Homo sapiens: one gene and its partners. The protein of the gene in region 1 interacts with the protein of each later gene in a biochemical or structural test. Each region holds a gene or a part of one and is shown on either strand. Other genes may lie near its edges.

What was found.
Region 2: the proteins of PDK2 (region 1) and DLAT form a complex in vitro, tested with the Homo sapiens proteins (2 studies listed by BioGRID).
Region 3: the proteins of PDK2 (region 1) and PDHX form a complex in vitro, tested with the Homo sapiens proteins (one study listed by BioGRID).

The regions. Positions count from the first base shown.
Region 1 is NC_000017.11:50,105,351-50,112,350, forward strand, and holds the end of PDK2 (pyruvate dehydrogenase kinase, isozyme 2 isoform 1 precursor), read left to right. Parts: intron 1-20; coding exon 21-92; intron 93-534; coding exon 535-719; coding exon of another isoform or gene 720-802; exon of another isoform or gene 803-1,021; intron 1,022-1,443; coding exon 1,444-1,533; intron 1,534-1,725; coding exon 1,726-1,803; intron 1,804-2,805; coding exon 2,806-2,882; intron 2,883-2,968; coding exon 2,969-3,067; intron 3,068-3,261; coding exon 3,262-3,369; intron 3,370-3,936; coding exon 3,937-4,050; intron 4,051-4,606; coding exon 4,607-4,747; 3' UTR 4,748-6,802; downstream 6,803-7,000. UniProt on the Homo sapiens protein: Kinase that plays a key role in the regulation of glucose and fatty acid metabolism and homeostasis via phosphorylation of the pyruvate dehydrogenase subunits PDHA1 and PDHA2.
Region 2 is NC_000011.10:112,028,378-112,035,418, reverse strand, and holds part of DLAT (dihydrolipoyllysine-residue acetyltransferase component of pyruvate dehydrogenase complex, mitochondrial isoform 2 precursor), read right to left. Parts: intron 6,905-7,041; coding exon 6,780-6,904; coding exon of another isoform or gene 6,776-6,779; intron 6,628-6,775; coding exon 6,474-6,627; intron 5,758-6,473; exon of another isoform or gene 5,028-5,757; intron 2,016-5,027; coding exon 1,889-2,015; intron 1-1,888.
Region 3 is NC_000011.10:34,961,588-34,968,628, reverse strand, and holds part of PDHX (pyruvate dehydrogenase protein X component, mitochondrial isoform 1 precursor), read right to left. Parts: intron 1,990-7,041; coding exon 1,815-1,989; intron 1-1,814.

The DNA.
Region 1 (7,000 bases):
CCCCTCCCGCCCCCACACAGGTATGTCCAGAGCCTCCTGGACATCATGGAGTTCCTGGACAAGGATCCCGAGGACCATCGCACCCTGAGCCAGTGAGTGGGGGCCCTGGGTGGGGCAGGAAGGCAGGTGTTGGCCAGGGGCATCTGGGGTTGCAGCCCCTGGGGCAGAAGTACAGCAGGATGGAAGAAAAGACCCCTGCCTTCAGAAACATCCAGTCTGAGTGGGGAGACAGACTCTGCTTCAGGGAGCCCCAAGTTTGATGGGAGAGACATGGACTCCATTCTCACTGTTCCCTGAGCCCGGTGGGCAAGACCCAGGCCCTGCCATGGGGAGGATGAGAACTCTGGGCTTTCGAGTGGGAAGCCTGCCGGCAGGCAGCTAAAAGATCAGAGTGGGCTTTGGGAGGAGCAGGGAGGGCACTGGGAGTCCATCGGATTGGGAAGGGTAGAGCGGGTGAAGACACCGTGGAGAGGGGAGTCAGAAGCGGAGAAGAGTCTGGGGGTGTCCCATGTGAACATCTGCCCTGCCCCACAGGTTCACTGACGCCCTGGTCACCATCCGGAACCGGCACAACGACGTGGTGCCCACCATGGCACAAGGCGTGCTTGAGTACAAGGACACCTACGGCGATGACCCCGTCTCCAACCAGAACATCCAGTACTTCCTGGACCGCTTCTACCTCAGCCGCATCTCCATCCGCATGCTCATCAACCAGCACAGTGGGTGCCGGCCACAGCGGCGGGGAGCGGGCGGTGGGGGGGGCGGTGCTGGGGCCCAGGGCCGGGCTGCTGAGGGGACCTAGACCACTCTTCAGAACCCCACAAAGGGAGTCTTTGAATAGTTACTCCAGTAACTATGGAGTTAATGGCTCCAACATGGAAAAATAAAATTTTTCTTTCTCATTGATTTTCCATTTCAAAACGTTTTGTTTTCAGTGTTTGCAAAATGTAAAATTATGTCACATCTTTAAAAGAATGTTTAATTTAGTATTTATAAAAACTCTCATTATGTTCAAAAACAATTTGTTGTTTAGAGTTTCTTATTCCAGGAGGATTCACTATGATTTTTGAGAAGTTGTAGCCAGTCATAAATTAAACAAGTTCCTCATGCTCAAATAATTTCCAAAGCAAGGTGGTAAGAGTTCTCTTAGAATGTTATAGTCAAAGAAAAGAATAAATGCAATGTGGAGATGTGATGTGGGGAGAGACCTCTGAAAAGACGTCTGTTTCAGGTTTGCAAAGGTTTAAAAACGGCCTAAGCCAGGGCTGGAGGGGTCAGGGGTCAGGGAAGGGAGGACAGAAGCGGGGGAGTGGGGCAGCTTTAGGACTGGAGCCTACAGAGGCATTGGAGGTGAAAGTAGAAAGAGGAGGAAAGCCCGGGGGAAGAGGGAGCGCTGGGACAGACTGCAGCCCAGCCAACAGCATCCTCCCTTCCTGCCTGCAGCCCTCATCTTTGATGGCAGCACCAACCCAGCCCATCCCAAACACATCGGCAGCATCGACCCCAACTGCAACGTCTCTGAGGTGGTCAAAGGTGAGCCATTCCCACGGTGCCTGGCCCGCAGAGAAGCCCCGGGGACCCCTCCAAGCTTACCTGGCCAGAGGGTGACTCGTTCCTCAGTAAGGGGTGCCATGGATTTAATGCTGGTGGTCCCCAGTATCAATGTCAGGAGGACTGCCTGCTGGGTGGGCCACCCATGCCCTGAATGACCCCATCTTCTCTCAGATGCCTACGACATGGCTAAGCTCCTGTGTGACAAGTATTACATGGCCTCACCTGACCTGGAGATCCAGGAGATCAATGGTGAGTGAGCGGGGCTGTGTATGTGTCTGTCTTGGGGCTGGGGACGTGGCAGGGCAAGGTGAGACGGGGAGTCAGGAGATGGACTGTTTTCTAGACAGGGGAGAAGCAGAGTTATTATATTATTAATTCATTTGATAAATATTTGGGCTGGGCACAGTGGCTCACACCTGTAATCTCAGCACTTTGGGAAGCTAAGGCAGGCCAATCACTTGAGGTCAGGAGTTTGAGACCGGCCTCGGCAACATGGTGAAACCCTGTCTCTACTAAAAATACAAAAATTAGCCGGGCATGATGGCACATGCTTATAATCCCAGCTACTTGGAAGGCTGAGACAGGAGAATCACTTGAACCCGGGAGGCTGAGACTGCCGTGAGCTGAGATGCTACCACTGCACTCCAGCCTGGGTGACAGAGCGAGACTTCATCTCAAACAAATAAGAAATTGAGTGAATGAATGAATGAAAGAGTAAGCAAGACAGAAATGGTCCCCATTCTCGTGGACCTTACATTTTTGGTGCTAGGGAGATTGCGGAATGGAGCCTTCAGCCAATTAACAAGTAAATAAACAAGACCATCTCAGATCATGACAAGTGATGGGAAGGAAATAAAATGGGGTAACTCAACAGGGGTAGGGAGGAGGGGCATGTTAGATGGTGTATCAGCTTGGCTGCTTTCCTAGAACCCCAATACCAGTGGCTTACTTAAGAGGGAGGTTTCCCTCTCGCCAGCCCCTTGCTGGACAGGTCAGGGCTGGCTCCCCACCCCTGATTCAGTTCTAGCCTGGAGGAAGGGAACAAGGGTGTGGAAAGCAGGGCCCAAGAATTGAATGCATCACTTCCATGAGTCACCAGCTACCCCAGCTCAAGGGAGGCTGGGGATTTAGTCTCTCGCTGGGCAGCCATGTACTCAGAACTTTGTGGGAGGGGGTGCCTCCTTTGGGTAAGGTGGTTGAGCAGTGACCTCCTGACGGTTTCCTGACCCTTGGTCTTGACTTGCCCTGTAGCAGCCAACTCCAAACAGCCGATTCACATGGTCTACGTCCCCTCCCACCTCTACCACATGCTCTTTGAGCTCTTCAAGGTGAGGAGGCTGGGAGCCGGTGCTTTGCGGGGAGCGTGAGTAGGGCTGGCTTCTCCCATGCATCTCTTACCTCTGCCCCTCCGCAGAATGCCATGAGGGCGACTGTGGAAAGCCATGAGTCCAGCCTCATTCTCCCACCCATCAAGGTCATGGTGGCCTTGGGTGAGGAAGATCTGTCCATCAAGGTATGTGACCCTTTGACCTTGGGGACCAGGGAGCAGTAGTGGGGGCTTCCCTCCTGCCAGGAGACGGGCTTTCCTTTTCTCCTACATGGTGGGCAGATCCTGGGGGTGGGGAAGACCATGAGAAGGTCAGGGGTATTGGGCGGGGTGGGGAAAATGAGCTGTAAAGAATCCCTGACACATCCCATCTCTCCCAGATGAGTGACCGAGGTGGGGGTGTTCCCTTGAGGAAGATTGAGCGACTCTTCAGCTACATGTACTCCACAGCACCCACCCCCCAGCCTGGCACCGGGGGAACGCCGCTGGTGAGATGGCTTCACCCCAGCCCCTCCCACCTCCTGAGGGAGGCTTCTCTCCTCACTCACTTCCTTATCTCCCTGCTCACTCAGCTTCTGTGTGGCCGTCTGTGACAGTCACCTGTCTTGAATCTGGGCCCCCGCACCTCCCACATCTCCCCAGTCTGCACAGATCTCACCTGTCGGATGTCTCTCTGTCACCTTTCCTCCATCTTCCCTCTCTTCTGTAGCTCCCAAACCCCCAATTTCTACCTTTCTCCTGGTGTTGTCCAACTTGTCAGCACCTCCCTGTTAGAAAACTTGAGACTCAAAGGAGCCGTGGGGCCTGCTCTGACTTCCTGGCCCCTGAGCGGAACTCCTCTCTCTGCCCAAGCCTCCCTCCCGCATTCATGATTGCCCCATTCACCCCACACACACTTCTTACCTCAGTGTCCCCTCCCACATGTCCCCTCCCAGCTCTGGGACCCCTGCCATGTGACCCCAGCTCCACACCCTTCCCTCCCTGCATCAGTCCCTGCAGCTCCAGGAGGCCCCTGCCAGCCTCCTCATCCTCACTGCCTTCCTGCCCCGCTGCAGGCTGGCTTTGGTTATGGGCTCCCCATTTCCCGCCTCTACGCCAAGTACTTCCAGGGAGACCTGCAGCTCTTCTCCATGGAAGGCTTTGGGACCGATGCTGTCATCTATCTCAAGGTGAGGGCCCTTCCCGCAGAGCCCAGCTGGAGAAGAGCTTTGCTGATAGGACCTGGGCAGCCTTGGCCAGCTGCGAGCTTTCCTTTCCATCCCCCCAGTCCTTCCCTGGCCCCAGACTCTGAGAATCCAAGCAAAGCTACAGTTCCTCAACCTGAAGAACCCTCAACCCCCAGACACGCACTGCTTGTCAGGGAATTTAGGGGAGTCTGTGGTCTATGATTAAGACCCCTGTGCTGGGAACCCTTGACTTGTTAGACCCAGAAGGAAGGGGACACCCTAGGTCTTGCCATTCAGTTCAGAGGAGAAGACTGAGGCCCGGAGTCCGTGACTTGCTCAGGGTCACACAGCCCAGCCTCCTCCCCCTCCCTCTCCCTCCCTTAGAGGGAGCTGCTTGCTTGAATGGGCAGGAGCGGGACACAGGAGGGACCACCCTTTTGTGGTCTTTCCAGGCCCCCGTGTCTGGCAGCTGGGCTGCCGCTGAGCTGGGGTGGGGTGGTCTGCTGAGGAGTGGACAAGGCACAGGGAGGTGGGAGGGGCTGACCCTGACACTCCCCAGGCCCTGTCCACGGACTCGGTGGAGCGCCTGCCTGTCTACAACAAGTCAGCCTGGCGCCACTACCAGACCATCCAGGAGGCCGGCGACTGGTGTGTGCCCAGCACGGAGCCCAAGAACACGTCCACGTACCGCGTCAGCTAAGGGCCGCCGTGCATCTGCACCTGAGAGGACGGACTGCCGCCTCTGGGTCCCCCCACCGTGGTGCCCCTCACCATCCTCCTGGGGGAGCAGGGGGTGGGTTCTCCCTGATGACCAGGTTCTGTCTCTATGGAAGTCACTGCGGTGATAGGTCTGTGATGGTCCCTAAGTGCCAGTCCATCTCTGTGGAGACCCCTCGGTGGCCTCCCTATCTCTGTGGGCGATGCCTGAGGGTTAGGGATGTCTCCACCCTGATGGGGTGTCCCAGAGACATTTTCCCATGGCAGTCCTCCTCTCTGAGACCAGGGCTGTCACTTTTCTGCCAGGGGTACTGGGTCCCCCTCAGCACCCTCCACAGCACAGGCCTTCCAAGTGGATGTCCCGTTGCCTTATTCCCCCAGCCCACAAAGGCACCCTGGCCTTGGCCTGCTGAAGTGTTAGGAAGAGGGTGGGTGCCCTCCAGACCTGGGGACTGAGTGGGGAAAGGAGTTACACCCGTGAGTGGGGAATGAGGCTGGTCCTGCAGCCTCTCCCTCCGCTCAGGGCTTGAAGGTCGGTGGCGGAGGGGGTGGCTCTCACAGGGCCCAACTCTAAAGTGGAAGAACCTTGTTAGACCGAGAGCTTGCCATCCAGCCAAGCTGCTCGAGGCCCTGCAGTGGCCTTGGCAATGTCTGTGCCACCTCCTGAGCCCTCCCAGCATGTCCTCACATGCTCATGCCCACCCGCTCCTCCACAAGCCTAGTCCATCCTGCCTGAGCTCCAGCCCCCAGCCCCCACTGTGCCCAGACATGTGTGCTCAGGGTGGCTTTCTCCCTAGGACCTTCTGTGTATATAGTTAGTTTTATAACCCTGAATGCCCCCACCCTTCCCCTAAGCACACAGGGGTTAAAGCTGTGTGTCCCTCCCAGTGGCTGTGGCAGTGACAGTGACACCCACACCCACAGTAAAGAGGAGACTGAATGAGACTGGCCTGGCTGCATCCCTGGGGGAGGGGACCCACACGTGCGCACGTACACACGCACACTGCGGTGCCCTGTGACCACCACATGACGCACCGGGGACGTCCGGCCCAGCTCAGGACTGTGAGTAAAACACTGGGCAAAGCCATCTGTTCAGAACGCCGGATGGCCCAGCACCTGGTGACAGACCTGTTGTCCCACCATACTCAGGGCCCAGCAGAGTCCGGCCAACCCAACAACTGGAGCAGACAGAAATTCTGGTCACTGGCACATCATAAGGATTTATTGAAATAAATTGAGAACTGCCTCCCCTTCACATGCAGGTGGGCACCCACTATAGCTACTGATGGCTTTAAGGATGTGGGTGCCTTCCAACCTCCCATGGCCCTGCCACCAGGCCCAGATGGTGCCAGTGTCCTCATATCTGTTTCCCTCCGAAGCCCCTCTCCCAGCACAGATAGCAGAGGGGGGATAAGGGCTGAGTCCCAGGTACAGGGTGCTGGCCGTAAGCCACAGCCCCTGGGCAGGAATGAGGGAGCCAGCATGCATTGGTGCCATCTGCCGCTCTGTCTGGGCAGATGGGAGGAGCTGGAGGGGTTTCCAAGCGGGAGCCCCCAGGCCTCATCGGTAACTCTGACCAGTGTCCTGGAAGCGGGACTAGCTGCTGACCAGCGCCACACATGAACACTTCCTCCAAGGACATTTCCTAAAAAGGACACATGCTGTCCCCAGGCTGCTGGTAAACTCCACCCCCATCCAGGGAGCTGGCCCCAGCCCTCAGTGTGGCCCAGGGAAGCAGAGCTTGCACCGCCTGCCAGTTCTGAGCCCACTGATTCCCTGACAATGCCTGGGGCAGATGGGGGAGGGCTGATGAACCTTTCCAATCTCGTAGCTGCCGGGGACCCCCAGGTTTTGCCTCTCTGCCTGGCTGGGGTGAGGGCTGACCAGGTCAGCAGCTCCTAGGCCTTGGCTGGTGGAAGTGGTGTCCTCTGTCCCTATCAGTTCCTGTTTGCTCAGCTCCCAAAGAGGACTTAGGTGCCCTCTGAGGAAGCAGCAGGAAGTGAAGGGAGTCCTGGCTTGGAGAATGGGTCAAAGACCAGGTCTTGAATGGGCCCTGAGAGGCAGACCTGTGTGGTGTCATCTCGCCCCCTGGGACCCACAGGACAGAGGAGGGGAGAGGGAGAAGGGGATGTTCATCCTCCCCTCTTGAGTCCTGGCAAAGACTGCACTCGCCCCAGGCTGCTTTCTCTGCGCTCCTGTTGAGGAGTTTGGCTGGGAGTCTACCCTGAGTGCGACT
Region 2 (7,041 bases), on another chromosome or scaffold:
GACTAGTCTCTATAGTGACACTGGTATTCAAGTTAAATGGTGAAGCAGAACTACTGTTTCCAAAGTTTCTGTGTTTTTAAGAAACAGAATCCTTTCTTCAAATAAAATTTATGGGGAAGCACAAAATACAAAAAGATAGAAAAGAACTGCTCTGCTGGAAGTAAGGCAGGGAGGCAGGGCTGTAAGGTCCTGCTCTTTAATTCCCCCTTTGCCTCAAGGTGCCTTAAAGGAATGATGGGATTTGAAGAACACAATCTGAAAACAACCAAGGCAGAGGATGCCCAGTACCTCCCATTACATCTTTGGGAAAGGCTTCCCTTTGGTGGTGATTATGAAGCAGAGAGGCTGGGTGCGGTGGCTTATGCCTGTAATCCCAGCACTTTGGGAGGCCGAGGCAGGCAGATCACCTGAGGTTAAAGAGCTCGAGACCAGCCTGGCCAACATGGTGAAACTCCATCTCTACTAAAAATGCAAAAAATTAGCCAGGCATGGTGGTGCATGCCTGTAGTCCCAGCTACTCGGGAGGCTGAGGCAGGAGAATTGCTTGAACCCAGGAGGCGGAGGCTGCAGTAAGCCAAGATCGCACCACTGTACTCAAGCCTGGGTGACAGAGCAAAACTCTGTCTCAAAAAAAAAAAAGAAAAAGCGGGGGTGCAGAGAGAAGAAATTCATAATACTACAAATCGCCATGGCTCACGCCTGTAATCCCAGCGCTTTGGGAGGCCAAGACAGGTGGATCACGAGGTCAGGAGATCAAGGCCATCCTGGCTAACACAGTGAAACCCCATCTCTACTAAAAATACAAAAAATTAGCCAGGCGTGGCAGCGGGCACCTGTAGTCCCAGCTACTCGGGAGGCTGAGGCAGGAGAATGGCGTGAACCCAGGAGGTGGAGCTTGCAGTGAGCTGAGACTGCGCCACTGCACTCCAGCCTGGGCAACACAGCGAGACTCCGTCTCAAAAAAAAAAAAAATAATAATAATAAATATATTATTGTCTATATGGGTTTTTTTAGCCTAAAAATGAATTAAGAAGGAGATATGTGGACATATGACATATCTGAACATATATATATTACACACATACATTCTATCAGTCATTCTCAAACTATGAAAACAATCTCAACCCTGGTTTCAGTTTTCCCTCAAAGTCATCTTAAATTCTTTGCTATTATCCTGCCATGGAAGTGATTTTCTCCTGTTTCTTCTTGACTTCCTTTGCCTAGTTTAGACAGCAGCAATTCTGATATAGCTTCTCAGTAACATAATAAGGCCAAGAAGCAAACTTGGGCCTAAAAATAATCTGTGAATTGACAGATTGATTGCCTTTGATTCAGTGAGCACAGGATGGAACTGACAAATCTGACTACGCATTATTTTTGTTATAAATTATGCTGGGCCAGGAACAGGGGCTCACGCTTGGAGTCCCAGCACTTTGAGAGGCCAAGGCAGGAGGATCGCTTGAGCCAGGAGTTCAAAACCAGCCTGGGCAATAAAGTGAGACCCCATCTCTACAAAAAATTTAAAAAATCAGCTAGGTGTGGTGGTTCAGGCCTGTAGTCCTACCTACTTGTGAGGCTAAAGCAGGAGGATCATTTGGGCATAAGCCCAGGAGTTCAAGGCTACAATGAGCTATGATCTTGCCACCGCACTCCAGCCTGGGCAACAGATTAAGACCCTGTCTGAAAAATAAGCAAATAAACAAATAAATAAATAAAAACTAAAGAATACATATAACTAAATAAAAATAAAATATTCTGTCCCAGAAAATGAATCCTAAGAATTATAAAGTTTTCATATTATCACTCACTCATTATAGGAAAGAATGGCAATCCTCTTCCTCATTGGGAAACTCAGTGCCTCAACCATTAAGAGCTGAAGAAATCTCACCTATAGTGGCTTTGTCAGTTTCTATCTCTGCCAGTAAGTCTCCTTCACTTAGCTTCTCACCCACTTTTTTTTCCCATCTCTGAACTGTGCCCATGGTCATGGTGGGAGAGAGGGCAGGAAGAAGTACCTGCAGAAACAAACACATATTATTGCTTAATACCAGGAAGACTTCTACATAATAAAAGTCTGGCAGACTTATGTGGTTTCATAGAATGATGGTGACTATGATAATCCAAATACTCACCACAGCAAAAGCTTCACACCTCAATAGCTTCCCACCAGGTAAATCATCCTTCAAATCTCATACTCTGACCCATACTCTTATACTCTCGCCCACACTCTAACACACACTCCAAGTTAAATGCAACAAGCACATGGGAAAGATTTCTTTCAGACAGTCAAAATTAATTTCTCAACATCTAAGTATGGAGCATCTTTTCATCTATTTTTATTTTTATTTTTATTTTGAGACAGAGTCTTGCTCTGTCCCCCAGGCTGGAGAGCAATGGCGCAATCTCGGCTCACTGCAACCTCCACCTCCTGGTTTCAAGTGATTCTCCTGCCTCAGCCTCCCGAGTAGCTGGATTACAGGCGGGTGCCATCATGCCCACTAATTTTTGTATTTTTGTAGAGATGGGGTTTTACCATGTTGGCCAGGCTGGTCTCTGAACGCCCATCCACAAGTAATCCGCCCGCCCTGGCCTCCCAAAGTGCTGGGATTACAGGCGTGAGCCACCGCGCCCAGACTTCATTTTTTTTTAACCAAGAAGTTTTTCATTTTCACAAAATGACCTTGGTCCAAACCATTCTGTTAAAATTTTACTGCGCTCTGTACTTAGCATCTACCTATTTTTTACCCACAGGAAACTGCATTTGTCCCAACCTTACCAGATATCTTTCCAAGATAAAAACGTAATATTAAGAACTGTTCTGTGCTCGCTTCAGCAACACATATACTAAAATTGGAACGATATAGAGATTAGCATGGCCCCTGCGCAAGGACAACAAATTCGTGAAGCATTCCATATTAAAAAAAAAAACATTATTTGGTGACAATAGTTAATAACAATGTATTGTATTCTTGTAAATTCCTGACAGTAGATTTTTAAGTGGCCTAAAAGATAAGTCTATAAAGTAATGCATATATAAATTAGCTCAATCTAGCCATTCCACAATATATACATATTTCAAAACAACTTGTTGTATATAATATATGTACACAGAATTCTTACACAGAATTTTATTTGATAATTTTTTTTTTTTTTGAGATGGAGTCTTACTCTGTTGCCCAGCCTGGAGTGCAGTGGCATGATGATCATTCAAAAAAATAAAACAGGAGGCCAGGCACAGCTGTTCACATCTGTAATCCCAGCACTTTGGGAGGCCAAGGATCACTTGGGAGGGGCGGATCACTTGAGGCCAGGAGTTCAAGACCAGCCGGGCCATCATGTCGAAACCCCCTCCTCTGCTAAAAATACCAAAATTAGCTGGGCATGGTGACACCCACCTGTAGTCCCAGCTACTCAGGAGGCTGAGGCATGAGAATCGCAGAGGTTGCCGTGAGCCAAGATCGTGCCACTACACTCCAGCCATGGTGACAGAGCAAGACTGTCTCAAAAAAAAAAAAAAAAAAAAAAAAAAAAAACAGGAAAGACCAGCATGGTGGCTCATGCCTATAATCTCAGCATTTTGGTAGGCTGATGCAGGAGGATCACTTGAGCCCAGGAGTTCACGACCAGCCTGAGCAACATGATGTAACCTCATCTCTTAAAAAAAAAAAAAAAAAAAAATTAGCTGGGCATGGTGGCACGTGCCTGTAGTCACAGCGTCTTGGGAGGCTGAGGTGGGAGGATGGCTTGAGCCAGGAGGTCAAGGCTACAGTGAGCTAAGATTGCACCACTGCACTCCAGCCTAGGTGAAGAGTGAGACCCTATCTCAAAAAATAAAATAGCTAGGTGTGGTGGTATGTGCATGTATTCCCAGCTAGTCGGGAGGCTGAGGCAGGAGAATCGCTTGAACCCAGGAGGCAGAGGTTGCAGTGAGCCGAAATCATGCCACTGCACTCCAGCCTAGGTGATGGAGTGAGACCCTGTTTCAAAAAATAAATAAATAAAAATAAAAAACCAGGGGTAAAAAAAGCCCTGTTTTTATAATAGCCATTTCCACCCCAATAATATCCAAACATCAGAATGCCTATCTAAATGTAAAATTGCTTTACTATTTATATGGCTTGTGTATCCACTGAATTTGGTTTCATTTGCTATCCTCTTTGTCTTCTGTATCTGATTAGCAACAGGATTATGCGGAGAGGAAAATAACTTCAATTGAAGATGTTTCCAGAGAGGGGAAAGTAAGACAAGCCTTAGAAAAAAAATTGTAAGTGCTTTTTTTGTGCAGAATTTGCCATCTTCATCTGCTTCTTAAGAAACAGTGAAGCCAATAATCTCTATACAGTATCTTAAAGAATACTATCAGAGATTCAGAATCCAATTCAGTATCTTAAAGAATAATTAAGGTAAAACCCTAACACATGCACACAAAGCTACAGACACAAAGTAGAGGAAAATTAAGTCAGTCTTACATCATGAGATAGAATTTGCCGAACAGCATGTAATACATGTGTGAACTGAACACCTGGCAAAAAATCCTAAATGATTGTTACTAACAGACCATGGAGTAGAACATTATTTCCAAAGGAGAAAAAGATTCCTATACAAAAATTTCTACAAATAAACTAGATTAAGGAGAAATGCCAGTCAGAATTATTTAGAAAAGGACGGCTGGATTTTTATCCACTTTTAACATCTAAAGCACACAAATATACAGACGATAACCCTAATACCTAATAAACTGACTTAGTTTCTTAGAAACTGATTTAGTTAGCACAATCAACAGTGATTACATTCACTGCCTTCAACTTTGATGCAACACTATTACATATGTGTATCTTACACTTAACTTTTGTCAGTTTTCTCATTTATTAATACTATTGGACTACTTCACCCACTCTTGGAAAATAGATCACCACATGTCAAAAGAACACCAACTGGGGACTTTCATTCAACAGACAGCACTTGACACCTATGATACAGCTTGGATGTCTGTCCCCTCCAAATCTCATGCTGAAATATGATCCCCCGACTTCCGTTTCCGGGTCAGAGCCATGGTGGTGGCAACTTCAAGCCCTGCTAACCCCATGGTGTTCTTTGATGTCAGCAATGGCAGTCAGGAAGTTGGCCGCACAAAGATCGAGCTCTCTGCAGACGTTGTGCCTAAGACGACCGAGAACTTTGGGTAGTTCTGCACTAGAGAATTCAGAAAAGATGGGGTTCCAATAGGATACAAAGGAAGCACTTTCCACAGGGTCATAAAGGATTTCATGATTTAGGGTGGAGATTTTGTTAATGGAGATGGTACTGGAGTCGCCAGTATTTACCAGGAGACATTCGCAGACGAAAATTTTAAACTTAGACACTCAGCTCCAGGCCTGCTTTCCACGGCAAACAGCGGTCCCAGTACAAATGGCTGTCAGTTCTTTATCACCTGCTCTAAGTGTGATTGGCTGGATGGGAAGCATGTAATGTTTGGAAAAATCACTGATGGACTTCTAGTGATGAGAAAGATTCAGAATGTTCCCACAGGCCCCAACAATAAGCCCAAACTACTGTGGTGATCTCAAAGTGCGGGGAGATGTAGTCCAGACCAAGACTGAATTAGGCCTTCCCTTCTTGGTGGTGTTCTTGAGTAAGATAATCTGGACTGGCCCCTGTGTTTGCTTCCCTGCCTGCTGCTGCCCCATTTGATCAAGAGACCCTGGAAGTACTGGAGATTCAGAATCCAAGACTGTGTAAATAAAGTTTTTTTGTATGTGGAAAAAAAAAAAAAGAAATATGATCCCCAATGTTAGAGATGGGGTCTGGTGGCAGGTGTCTGGGTATTGGAGGAGGATCCCTCGTGAATGGCTTGCTGCATGCCCCATGGTAATGAGTTAAGGGGAAATCTGATTGCTATAAAGAGCCTGGTTACCCACTCCCCTCTGTCTCTTGTTCCCTCTCTCATGGGACACACCACCCTTCCCCTTTCCCTTCCAACTTCCACCATGATTGTAAGCTTCCTGTGGCCACAAGAGAAACAGATGCTGGCGCCCTGCTTCTTGTACAGCCTGCAGAACCTTGAGCCAAATGAACCTTTTTTCTTTATAAATTACCCAGCCCTAGGTATTTCTTCATGCCAAAGTAAAACAGACTAACACAGCCTGCTATAAACTCTAATTATACAGGGAATAGATGTTAGTAAAAATCATCCTCAAAATCTGTAATGTAATGTTCTTGAATGAAAAGTGCCACGCATTACCCTGTGTACTACACTGAGGCTGAGAAAGGTTACAGGAACTGTTCAAGTTCTTATAACTGGAAATAACAACCAGGAAGAATAGTTGTCAATCTTCATGTTTAAACCTATATACTCCCAAATGACAAGACCTAACCACATTTAATGTCAGTTTCCAAGATGTAGTAGCCATCTATGAAAAAAAGTGAGTAAGTAAGTAATCACCTAGAGCAAAAACTCAGAGGCTGAGCCTCACCTGCATGTGAGGGGGATATGAGCTACCAGGAGCCTGAGCAGAAGGTGTAGGTGGCGAAGCAGTGGCAGCAGGGGTTGGTGCTGGGGCCGCTTGTGGGGTAGGTGCTGCTGAGGAATCCAGTGTATAATTTTTAAAGGCCTCAATATCCTCAGGCCTAAGGAAGAGAAAGAATGCATAAATATAATGGGCAGATTCAGCTTTCACAAAAGTAGTCTTAAAAAATAGTCTTTAACTCCTAATTCTCAATTCTGGGTAAAATACTCCACCAAGCAATGAAGTTCCACAAATTATGAGCGCACTACTCACTTGCCAACTGTGATACAGATGATCGCTCCGATGGGAACATCCCTGGTACCTTCAGCAACAAGTATCTTTGCCATATAACACTCCTCCAGGCTCTCAAATCCAACAGTGGCTTTATCAGTTTCAACCTTTTAACACAAAAAGCAGTAGCTCAGGTTTGTACTGTTGGTATGTAATTTATTAGCTTGTGTCTAGAATTTTTTTTTTTTTTTTTTTTTTTTTGAGACACAGAGTCTCATTCTGTCACCAAGGCTGGAGTGCAGTG
Region 3 (7,041 bases), on another chromosome or scaffold:
ATGAGTATCTTATTTCTTACAGATTCATAATAGAAAGTATGAATGAGATAATAAAATATTCCTATAACTTCACTGTAGTTTTTCCATTCTGTTCCTTGGATCTCTCAAAAAAGCATGACAGATTTTAAATTATATCTAATTCCTTTCTTGTCCTTCACTCTATTTTGGGATTTCATTACAATCACTTCAAGATAATACAAAGCAAATGAAAGTGCGGCTGATTTCATTTTTACAAATATCATTAAGAAATTAAACATTTTATGTTAGCAAAGTACTTGGTCAAGTAGAATAAATGCTCTCTACATACCATAAGAATTTGAAAGTAAGGTTTACCTCCTTAATTTGAATAACTTTTTTTTTTTTTTTTTGAGATAGGGTCTTCCTCTATTACCCAGGCTGGAGTGCACATAGCTCACTACAGCCTCAACCTCCCAGTCTCAAGTGATTCCCCAATCTCCACCGCCTGAGTAGTTGGACTACAGGCACACACTACCACATCCAGCTGATTTTAAAATTTTTTTGTAGAGATGAGGTCTCACTATGTTGCCCAGGCTGGTCTTTGAATGCCTAGGTGCAGGCAATCCTCCCACCTCAGCCTCCCAAAGTGCTAGGATTACAGGTGTAAGCCACCACACCCAGCCTTGAATAACCTACTTTTAAAAGACATATGATTGAATTATACATATTTCATAGTCCATATACATTATATAGTCAAAGAGTGGACTATACACTCAATATACATAGTATCTTATCCAACTGCATGTCCTTAAAGAGCAGGTTATTCAAGTATGCAGTATATTAATCATTAATGGATATTTAAAAATCTGTTTCCCATGAAAGTTGTACTGTTTTCAACTCTTTTAAAATATCATATGGTATATAGTTCTCCACTAGGAGTACACATTTATCTATTTATTTTTTTAAGTGCCCATTCGATTTTAAATAAACTGGGCTATCCTACATTTCTTCTGATAGGAAGAAAATAACCTGAATAGGAAAGGCACAGAGAGGCAAAATGGAGTAATTTGAAAACAAAAAGGGGCTGTTATACTGCATGCATCTGAGAAGGAAAGAATGACTAGCTACATAGTTCTTCATAGTGAGATTATCAATTCCCTAGTTAAAAAGTAGAACATATCCACAAAAGGGAGCTAGTGTCAGCTACTAATTATTAGTATCACACTTAAGACATGAAACATGAGATTGTAGAGAATATATATGTTACTGAAGTTGTGGAACTTGTGGTAACTTTAAATTGAATTATAGTTCTAATGTTTATTTGGAAGTTAACACACAAACAAATTTTGGTTTCTGATAGGAAATCTGTAAAACAAAGCATTTGGAGTGTTTTATCCTTATCACTTAGCTACTATTGAAACGGATTAATAAAACTAATCTGTTTTAAATCTACTCTTAAAACACATAGTAATTGTTCTTATTTTCTCTCTCACACTTGAATCTGAAAAATAAAAATCTAGGCCAGGTGCGGTGATTCACACCTGTAATCCCAGCACTTTGGGAGGCCAAGGCGGGTGGATCACCTGAAGTCAGGAGTTTGAGACCAGCCTAGCCAACATGGTGAAACCCCGTCTCTACTAAAAATACAAAAATTAGGTGGGTGTGGTGGTGCGTGCCTATAATCCCAGCTACTCAGGAAGCTAAGGCAGGAGAATCACTTGAACTTGGGAGGCAGAGGCTGCAGTGAGCCAAGATTGTGCCATTGCACTCCAGCCTGGGTGACAGTGCAAGACTCTGTCTCAAAAAAAAAAAGAAAAACAAGAAAAAGAAATAAAAATCCACTTAGAGAACACTACCACTGCATTGGGTTGTCCAGGAGTTGATACTGGTGGGATCACAGGCCGGGGATAAGATGGTCCAGCTGTGGCCTGTAGGGGCGAAGGTGCTGTGGGAGTGGCTGTGGGGGCTGGAGTTGGTCTGGACTCGGTAATCTTGCCCGTTTGTTTCAACTGGACAAGTTTGAGAGCATCCCTGGAAATAAGAGCAAAGTAGATAACCATAATTAGCAATAAGGAATATAACAGAACTTTCAGAAAACGCAGGTGAGATGTGGAGAAAAGATACAGAAATATACAGATGTCAAGGTTATAATTAAAAACCAGTAATTTGAGCTAGAAAATTAAATCCTGTCTCTTACCTGGTCTGCTGACCATTATTTGTCACGTTCTAATATTTGCATATTTTCAAAAGCCAAACAATTAAAATGTTATTAAAATTGGGCATAAGTAGTGATTTTTAAAAAGGAAATTAGTCTTTTTTTCTGTGCAGTGGACGTTATTTGGTAGATGAACAATTAATTAAACCACTCTCATCCTTTATACTCATGAAATAATATTCACATGGCATTCAAAAAGTGTCAAGTTTATTGTAAATATGGCTTTCACCAGGATACTTCCTACATCATTGTTCACTTATTGTTTATTCATTGTTTATTATAGTGCAAATCAGCTTATTTATGACCAGGAAATCAAACCATTTTTAATTTTGCTAATATGCCATCAGTACAATCTAATATAACAAATCTAACCTATGATATCTTTTAGAATGAAAAATAACTAGTTACAGACTTGCCTTTGTATTACTCTGTAAAACAAAGGTATTTTTGTCTTGTAAGAGGATATAATTAGATTACTAAATATGCTAAGCCCTCAACTCACTATGCTAAGTTACAGTGGTATTAGGCAATATATTTTCTTAAAATAATTTTTGGAACATTTTAATATCCAATAAGTATTTTGGAAAGTATTTTTTCCAATTTAAGAAAAAAAATTGTTTTATATAATCTAAAAAGAACTTCAGGATGACACAAAATCTAAGGAAAAATTATTTCTCAGTTAATATTTTGGTATTATTTTTCCAAAAATTTGATGAAAGATAAAAGCTAGCACCTGTTGAGCATATTTGAGAAGACCCCTTTACTTATGGCAACATGGTAGGAAGAATTCTGAGATGGCCCCAATATTCCTGCCCCTGGTGTACATGCCCCATATCATCCCTCTTGACTGTATCTGGCCTGTGAATATGATGGATGTCACTCCCATTATTAGGTCCTATTATGTGACAAAATTGGTGGCATTTTATAGATATATGAGGCTCCAAATCAGTTGCATTTGAGTTAACCAAAAGGCAAACTACCCTGGAGAGGGCAGATATATCAGGTAATCTCTTAAAAGAAATTAGGCCTTCCTGGAAGAAGAGACTTGAAGTAAAGAGATAAAACTGCTGGCCCGGGAGAAGCAAACATGCATGTTGTGAACCGCCTATGGAGACCACGCATGGCAAGGCCCTGCACGTGGCCTCTGGGAGCTGTCAGTGGTTCTTGGCTGAGAGCTAGAAAGAAAACAAGGGCCACAGTCCTACAGTCCCAAGGAACTGCATTCTGTCAACAACCACATGAGCTTGGAAGAGGACCCCAAGCTTCACATGAGTCCCCAGCCTTGGCCAACACTTTGATTTCAGCCTTGTGAGACCATGAGTTCAGAACCTGGCCATGCTATGCCAGGACTTCTAACCTATTGAACTGTTAGAAAACAAACAGGTATTATTTTAAGCTGGTAAGTTTACTGTAACTTGTTATGCAATAATAGAATATCAACACAAGCAGGAACAGTCTAACTGGGGTGCAAAAATCTGTATCGTTAATGCCCGAATACATCTATTTAAAAAAAAGGTTGCTGACACTAAATTGACACATTTTTAGCATAACTATTACTTATTAGCATATTTAGTAATATGTAATATTTAGTTATGCTAATAATATGCTAATAGCTAGCTAATATTAGTTATGCTAATAGCTAATATTAGTTATGCTAATAGCTAATATTAGTTATGCTAATATTACATATTTAGCATAACTATTACTGCTACTTTATTTTTTAAAAAGCAGTTTAGTTTTATCTCTGTAGTAATTAAGGTTCTTGGGTAGGTTAATCATAAAGAAGCAAGAACAAAATTGCTTCTTCTTGCTCACAAAAACTTGTATTGCTGATTTTATTTTTTTTTTATTTTTTAAAGAGTCTCACTCTGTCACCCAGGCTGGAGTGCAGTGGCGCGATCTCAGCTCACTGCAACCACCGCCTCCAGGGTTCAAGAGATTCTCATGCCTCAGCCTCTTTAGTAGCTGAGATTACAGGTGTGCATCACCACGCCTGGCTAATTTTTATATTTTTAGTAGAGATGGGGTTTTACCATGTTGGCCAGACTGGTCTCAAACTCCTGGCCTCAAGTGATTCGCCAGCCTTGGTCTCCCAAAGCACTGGGATTACAGGTGTGAGTCACTGCACCTGGTCTTTTTATTGCTGATTTTATACTTACATACCTATGAAGTATAAATCTTAATTATTGTTTAGTAACAGCCAATGATTTAGTTTTTTGTGAGGCAGAAAATGGTTTTAATGATTTCTGCACATTAAATAATCAGACTAAACTTGGAGCATTAGGTAGACATTAAAAGCTATAAAAATTAGGAGAAAAATATACCACACAAATTCATTCTGGCCACTGGCAGAAATAGGCAGATAGGCAGAGGATGCTCTGGAAGTTAACTCAGGTACAACCTTCTCTACTGGGTTCCCTGAGAGAGCAATTCATTTGGGTGTGACATGAATTCATTTTGAAAATACCACTAAAACACACTAGGCACTTGCCTGTCATACTTACCTAATTTTTGATGCTGTGTGATGAATACAAACATTACTACAACTATGATTTAGGACACAGATGTACCAAAGACATTGGGGCTGCAGGCAAAGAAACTAAATGTGTTCTGCTTCTAATTGTGGCCTCGACACTGCTTTCTTAAAACAGTCACATGTACAAGCAAAGTCAAGTCTATATTCTTTGGTACAACATGTATTCTGAGCAATGCTTGTTTTAAGGCAAAATTAAAATAGCAGCCCTGATACCCAAGATTTTCTTCACAAATACAGTGGGCTGGAGGCATTTCCTTCAGCATTTGGAACTGATTTTTCTACCCAGACTTTTAGTGGACATGGTATGGAGCATGTCCTCACCGTGTCAAGAACGTGTGTTGGCTGGGCACAGTGGCTCACGTCTGCATTCCCAGCACTTCGAGAGGCTGAGGTGGGAGGGTCACCTGAGGCCAAGAGCTTGAGACCAGCCTGGGCAACCTAGTGAGAAACCGTCTCTACAAAACTGTTTTAAAAATTTAGCCAGGCATGGTGGCACACCTGTAGTCCCAACTATTTGGGAGGTTGAGGTGATAGGACCACTTCAGCCTAGGAGTTCAAAGCTGCAGTGAGCTATGAATACACCACAGCACCCCAACCTGGGTGACAGAGTGAGAGCCTGTCTCTCTCTTAAAGAAAAAAAAATTCAAAACGTTAAAAAATAAAAAAGTGTGCTAAGATATTTTGGGGACAGCTATGCCAAAGCCTGCAATTTTTCAACCATAGCAGAAGACGACATTAGGCTAAAATTTTTTCCAAAGCTCACCTTAATGATAAACTTAAAATGCAGGCATTTTTAGCAGTATAGAAAAGCAAAAATCCTCAATAATATATGCTTTCAGGATCCATTTTTCTCATGAAATCTTTTGTACTAGTTCTTATTTTGAAGACCAAAGGCTGATGCCTTTCTCGTGGAGAGTTAAGGAATAAAGGCAGGGAAGAGAAAAGGGTAACAGGGTAGAAAAGATGGCAATAATACTAAAAGCCTAACTCTTTAATACTGCTTCCTTATGGTATTCAGGAGATAATACCATTTTGTTCTTAAGAAATGTTTCATTAATATTATAACTTTCAACTCAGGTTTAAAAAAAGATATTTGCGCATCATATATGTATTAAGCACACATGGAAAGAAAAGGAAGGAAGAAACCTTTATTTCTTTATTTTACTGCTGTCACACTACTGAACACCATATTACCAAATTTAAGAGGCTTTTCTTAGATCCTACCATCCTTGACTTTTCCCACATTTCCCAGGTATCCTCCAACTCAAGGATTTTAACCTCTAGTTTCCCTATTGATGATCTCAATTATAACTATTGCTTTATTATCTACCAAATCTACCTCTCTAATCCCCAACTATCTCCTGAGATACATCTTCATCTCATTGATCCCAATACCTACATGGCTTCTAAGTCCTGACAATAAGCTTCAAACATTACTAACTCCACCAAAACAAATGCTTCCCAAATCCATTATTTCTATTTATGGAGACCAAACTATCATCACCTAGACCAGATCCAAATTCATTCCCTTACTTGTTGCTACTCTGGCCTACACTCCACATTTAATCTGCAAAGGCTTCTGGACTTTATCCTTACAATGTTGTCTGTATCAGGGATCTCCCTTTTAGTTCTTCTAACCACATTCAAGTATTCATTACCTCTTACATGGATTACTTTAGGAGCCTATTAATTTATCTCCTTATCTCATCTTTTTCTGCTCCAGTTTATCTTACACAAATTTGCAGAACTGATCCCCCTAAGGTGCAGCAATCATTATTTTACATTTCACCAAATCCTCAAAGATTAATGAATTAAATACAGACTCTTATTCCTAATCCTCAGAATTATGAGCAAGGCAAATCTACTTTGTTATAAAAATAGTTGCTTTCTCCCATTTTTACAGAGAGTGCTACTAAGGCACAGACTGGTAGAGACTAACAAGATTAAGATACCAACAGTAGACACAAATCAGGATTGGTGTGGGGAAAAAACTGGGATTAACTGGCAACCAAGGTTCTTAATTTTAATTTTTTACAGCTAAGTGTAACTTTTAAATCCTTTAACTAAAAATCCCATGGTCTGGGATGTTGCCTTTCAGTCAGCTCTCAGGACAGCTGATTTCCAACTCATGCAGTGTGGCACGAACTTCACAGTATGTGTGTGATAGAACCACATACATTCAGTTAACAAATTAGTAAGAGTGTAATACACATAAATGAGGATATCTAAGAATTAAATCTATATACTGCTTTCAATAAAATAAACACCCAACAGTAAGCCAAAGCTTTCATGAAGAGTAAAATAACCCAGTGGAAAAAAGAAAACATTGCCT